2 separate regions of the Homo sapiens genome follow, and region 2 is linked to region 1. Evidence: fine-mapped expression QTL. A gene starts in region 1. The other region holds a variant in brackets. All regions are shown on one strand. Distances are from middle to middle. Region 1 holds the start of TSPAN32 (tetraspanin 32). Region 2 overlaps CD81-AS1 (CD81 antisense RNA 1).

Region 1 (2,746 bases):
GCAGGGAGGCGTCTGGCTAGAGCAGCCCCCACCCCCTCCCCACCCACATCCCAGGTCCTGAGTGGAACATCAGCCATGTGGAGCCCTCATGGACCTGCTGTGCCCAGCCCCAGGCCAGTCCCAGGCCTGCCTGGGACTGAGCCCTGACTGCACAGAGCCAGGTCCTGACCGCACAGAGCCACTTCCTGACCCTGCCCGACATATACCCACACTGTGCCCACGCTCCTGTGGGGCACGAGAACCAGGCAGGAACACTGGCTGTCACCCAGACCCGAGGCCCTGCCCAGGGGAGCTAGGACTCCAGGGCAGCCCCTCCCTGCCCCTGACCACCTCTGGCTCCTGCCTAGGGCCTGGCACCATTCTGGCTGTGAGGCGTCCAGCTGGGCTCGTGCCAGCCACCCTTGCACCCGAGGCCCCTCCCGATGCAGCCAGGCCTGGACCTCACTTACCCCATTGGTGCACAGCCTGGTACGGGTTCTTCTCCAGGGACGCTCGGCGGATGACAGCAAAGTGGGCCCCGAAGTAGGTAAGAGTCACCATGGTGGCCACAGAGAGGCCCAGCAGCTGTGGATAGGGCAGACTCAGAGTGTGGGGCATGGGACTGCTGCAGGAGCAGGGAGCTCGGCCCCAGCGGGCAGGGTTGGGGCTCTCTCCAGCTTCCCGGTCCCGTGAGAGACAGGCTCAGCTGCAGGGATTCCCGGTGTTTCCGTGGAGTGGTCTCAGGAGGCCTTCACTGCAGACGCCCCAGCACACTCACAGGCACCCCCACATGGTAGACGCATACACGCACAGCCCAGCTTCCCCAGACACCCAGGACCTCTGATCATTGTGTCTACGGAGTGGGAGTGAGCCCCACCCCTGTGCCAGCACCCTCCGGGGCAGGAAGGGGAGAAGATCCCTGGAGCCCGGCAGCCAGTGCCCCTCCACCCCAGCTCGCCCCAGGCCTCAGCCCCACTCAGGCCTCCTCCAGGCTCTGTGCTGCCCCTCAGGAGGAGAGACGGGGTTGCTCATGGTGGTCCCTGCCTGCCTGCGGCTGTCTGCAAGGGCAGGACACATGTCTGCAAGGGCAGGACAGGGACAGTAGGGCTGGTGTGTGTGTCAGGGGAGGGATAATCCCTGTGCTGAGGCCCTGCCACCCCTCACCCCTGCTCACCCCCACCCACCACCCACTCCTGCCCGACCTGCCTGTTACCAAGATAAAGAAGCAGGTGACCAGCATCTGGCATTTGGCAACCCTGACTCGACTCCAAGGCCCCATGACGGTTCCTCTCCTCTCCTCTCCTCCCCTCCCTTCCCCTCCCTGTGGTTTCCAGCTGGGCAGGGGCCTCAGACCGCAGCTCACTGCCCAGGAGGTAGGCTGCATCCGCCCCTCTGTCTGTCTGTCAACATCGCCCTAGGACCGAGCTGCTGGGTGCCCCGGAAGAAGGGCAGGCAGGAAGGGGAGGGGCAGTGAGGTTGGCTCCCCCCACCACCTCACCCTGGTGCCCCCAGCCCAGCCCAAGACACCAGGGCATTTGCTGACATCTGAGGCCCTTCCCAGGAAGACATGGCCTCGTTCTTGGTGTGGCCACTGAGGACGGCGCTGAGAGGGGGAAAGTCATGGGCAGGACCTGGTGTGGGATGTGGAGGAGACGGCGCCCGGGGAGGAGGAGGTGAGCTCCCCGTCCTGGGAGTGAGCAAGTGTGGACTGGGCCTTGGGGGCGTAATCCTTGGAGGAATTTGGATGGGGTCTCCTTGGAACATCATTATTGAGGTGTTCTTAGGAAACACCCTTTGAAATGTCCTGTGACAGCTTAAGTTTTGAGAAGGTCGTTGGTTTTAATGCCTTCGTGGGCGGCACTCATGGATATTTTGTCGCAGAGCCTTCTTGGGGCCACAGGGGTGGGCTGGGGCCTCGCTCACACTCACGTGGGGCCTCCAGGGGGAGGCTTTGTAAACCTCGAATTTGCAATTACACCGAGCCGTGTAATTACGTATGGGTGGGGGCAGCGCTGCGGCCCCAGTACAGGCAGGGTTTCCGTGGGCCTCTGGGGCAGGGTGGGCCTGAAGAGGGTGAAAATGTTCCAGGTGAATCCATCATTCAGGGACCACTCCGGGCCCTCCCAGGAGTGCTAACAGGCGGCTCTGCTCGCCCCTCGGTGCTGGAATTGCTCCTCCTGCATTTGGTCAGGACCTCATCAAGGGGGAGGGGGCCCCAAGACCTGCAGGCATGGCAACCCCAGCGTGGCTGTGGGAAGAGGGCCCAGCTGCCGCCCGCTCAGGAACGCTGCTGGAGGAACTGCTGAGGCCACCGCCTCCCTCCCTCTGCGGAGGGAGAACCAGGAGAACCAGGAGGGACAACCAGGACCCCCGTCCAGCCCAGCACCCCCAGGCAGCACCCTCTGCAGCTCTGGCCCCCAGGAATTCCCACCCTGAGTCTGTGGGGGCTTGTGGAGACCTCAGATGCCTGGCACCCACAGTGTCACTTCAGCTGGGGGCCTAGGTGTGGCTCAGACTGGGGCGCAGGTATGAATGTAGGGGTGGCAACAAGAGTGAAGGTACCAGGTCTAGGGGCAGGAGGCCCCCGGGCTGTGCAAGTGGGCAGCCCGTCCTCTCCAGGGAAGATGAGCTGCTCTTGGCTATGTCTGGTTCGCCCCTAGAATTGTCTCTCTCCAACCTTGACCTCCCTGGAGCTGGTGAGGCGGGCCTGGAGCACCACCCGCTTCTGGGACACCTCTTCATCAGGTCTGAAGAATTTCGGAGCAGG
Region 2 (3,011 bases), 63 kb before region 1:
GTGGTGGGAAAGCAGCTGGAGCCCCCGAATGCAGAGCCTGCCCCGTCTGCCGTGCCTGGAGGGCACCCCTCACTCCTCAGGCTCTCCAGAAGGTCAGCTATGGGGGCAGGGTCTGGGCCCATTCTGGACCCTGCTGTATCCCAGGGACCATTTAAATGGGGGCCTGGCACAGACTAGGGGTTCAGTTGTTAAATGAATAAGCAAAGCTCAAAGCCCCCTATGTTCCTTGCCTGAGCCAAGAAGGAAGCCTGGGCCTGGCTTCTGAGTCCACCCACCCTCCTTGTGAGGTAGGAAGGCAGTGGCATTGCATAACTGACCACCTACAGGACCGGGCCACGCCGAGAGGGAGCAGGCGCCTTGATGCTCCTAGATCGTCGGCCAGACTCCCCCTCCCCAGTCCTTGGAGCCTCCTTGCTTCTTCAACCCCTGTCAGAGTCCGTGGGGCAAGGTGAGACTGGGAACACTGTCTCCTCCCCCAGACGTGGCTGATCTCAGCCTGGAGCCCCACCCCAGGGCTGCACAGGACCAGGGTCCAGATCATCAGCCCAGGATGCACGGTGGACTATGTGTGCCCAGCACTCGTGCACCGAGAGACCCGTCTTGTTTCCCATGAGCCCCTCGGTGCTGGGTGCCGGGTGAGAGCATAGCCCTGGTGATCCTGGTGGTCTTCTCCAGACTCTGATGTTTCCTTCCAGTCTCCCGGCCCTCCCCTCAATGTGCAGTGTGTGCGGGTTGAGGGGGCTGCTGTGGTCTGAATGTGTCCCCCATCTCTGTAATCATGATGGACTAACATCATTGTCGTGGGAGCGGGCTCTGACAGAAGGATGAGTTTGGTCCCCTTCTCTCTGGCTGTCTCTCTCTCCCTCTCTTTGCCCTTCTGTCATGGGATAAGGCAGCACAAAGACCCTTGCCAGAGGTGGCCTGTCGATCTCGGACCTCCCAGCCTCTAGGACCAGGGGCCAATAAGTTAGCCAGTCTGTGGTTTTCTGTTCTAACAGCACACGATGGACTAAGACCACAGGCCAAGTCTCCCCAGTGTATCACCATTAGGCCACACCCTGATACGGTTTGGATCTGTGTACCTGCCTAAATCTCATGTTGAATTGTAATCCCCAATGCTGGAGGTGGGGCCTGCTGGAGGTGATTGGCTCATGGGGGTGGATTTCCCCCCAGTGCTGTTCTCGTGATAGTGAGTTCTCATGAGACCTGCTTGTTTAAAGGCATATGGCACCTCCCCTCTCTCCCTCTGGGCTTCCTCCTGCTCCGGCCA[C/A]GTGAAGTGCCAGCTCCTCCTTTGCCTTCCGCCATGATTGTAAGTTTCCTGAGCCCGCCCCCAGAAGCCATGTGGATGCCAGCACCATGCTTTCTGTACAGCCTGGGGAACTGTAAGCCAAGTAAACCTCCTTTCTTTATGAATTACGCAGTCTCAAGTATTCTTTATACAGTGCAAGAACGGACGAGTACACCCACTTTGTCTAATCCAATCACACTCTGCATGACTCTCCATCAAACTCCACATAAAAATACACGGGTTTCCCTCTTCCCTTGGGTCCTCATTTCTTTTTCCTTTTCTTTTTCTTTTTTTTTTTTTTTTTGAGACGGAGTTTCACTCTGTCACCCTGGCTGAAGTGTAATGGCGTGATCTCGGCTCACTGCAACCTCCACCTCCCGGGTTCAAGCAAGTCTCCTGCCTCAGCCACCCCGGTAGCTGGGACTGCAGGCACATGCCACCATGCCCGGCTAATTTTGTATTTTTAGTAGAGATGGGGTTTCACCATGTTGGCCAGGCTGGTCTCGGAACTCCTGACTTCAAATGGTCTGTCCACCTCGGCCTCCCGAAGTGCTGGGTCCTCATTTCCGAAGGCTCCTATACGAGATGAAACTTATATTGAATAAATGTGTCTGCTTTTCTCTTGTTAATCTGTCTTTTGCTGTGAGAGCCTCAACCATGAACCTAGTGACGAATGAGGAGACAAATCTTTTCTCCTCCAGGTGCTTTGGACATGCTGACGGGTTCTGTGAGGGTCTCACTGTTTAGAGAAGCAGGACTCCCATCACAGGGCCACAGGCAGGGAGCACACCACACCAAAGACAGTGGGACGCCCAGCCGGGCCGGGCTGGGACCCAGGGAAGCCCAGGAGGAGACTGCCCTCTGCCCCACTCGCCTGGGAGCACCTCCCCCGGGGCGTTCTTCCAAATCTGGTGCCTGCCTTGATGTGCTCCCGATTCCTTTGCTCCTTGTCCCAACACTCCCTGTGCAGGCTCTGGAGACAGAGCTCTGATGGCTCGTGGGTCCCCATCACTTTCACTCTTGGCCATGTCAAAGGCTGCTGGTCTGACCCTGAGTCCCTCTGCAGTGCCCCAGGGGTCCAAGGTCCTGTGGGTCAGAAGGAAGGGCCTTGCCCCACCCCACCAGGGGCTGTGGATGGAGCCCCCAGCCAGGGCTGTCATGGGAGGCTGTGAGTGCCCACACCTGTCCAAGCAGCTGCAACTGCGGTTCTTCCTGGAGCTGTATACATCCAGCCCTTTGGGCGTCTGCCCACTCTCCCTCTGGCGGAATGTGACCCACCTGCTGGTCTGATTCCATGATAGGAGAACAAGCATGTTGCAGTCCCGACCTTCAGTGCCTCATATGTGACCTTATTTGGAAATAGGGTCACTGCAGATGTAACTAAGATATGGCCATTAGTATCCTGCTCAGATCTGACCGGTGACCTTAGGAACAGGGGAAGTTGGATGCAGACGCACACACAGGAAGGACGCCATGTGAAGGTGAAGGCAGAGATTAGAGTGATGCTCCACGAGCCAAGAAACACGAGGCTGCCTGGGAGCCCCAGAGGCTGGAGGGACTGGGCAGAGGCTGGAGGGACTGGGCAGAGGCCACCTCGTAGCCCCCGAAGGAACCAGCCCCAACAACAACTTGAGCTTGGACTTGAGGCCCCCAGGGCTGGGGAGATAAATGTCTCTGTGAAGGCTGCCAGACTGTGGCGCTTTGCTGTGGCAGTCCTAGCAGA

The links. PIP is the estimated chance that this variant, and not a neighbour inherited with it, causes the effect. A credible set is the group of variants that fine-mapping cannot tell apart.
Region 2: its variant is the best candidate, but not a certain one, in a credible set for the expression of TSPAN32 in whole blood (TOPMed, PIP 0.89).

The regions. Positions count from the first base shown.
Region 1 is chr11:2,300,662-2,303,407 of GRCh38, reverse strand. It overlaps TSPAN32 (tetraspanin 32), which reads right to left and starts at 1,395. Exons shown (of 10, transcript NM_139022.3): 1 at 1,193-1,395; 2 at 450-564. The coding sequence starts at 1,258. It overlaps C11orf21 (chromosome 11 open reading frame 21), which reads left to right and starts at 1,490. Exons shown (of 4, transcript NM_001329958.2): 1 at 1,490-1,652. The coding sequence starts at 1,600.
Region 2 is chr11:2,363,299-2,366,309 of GRCh38, reverse strand. The region is part of intron 1 of CD81-AS1 (CD81 antisense RNA 1); the gene reads left to right. Among named protein-coding and RNA genes, the nearest start is that of CD81, 13 kb to the left of the region's middle. The variant C/A (reference allele first, on the strand shown) is at 1,271.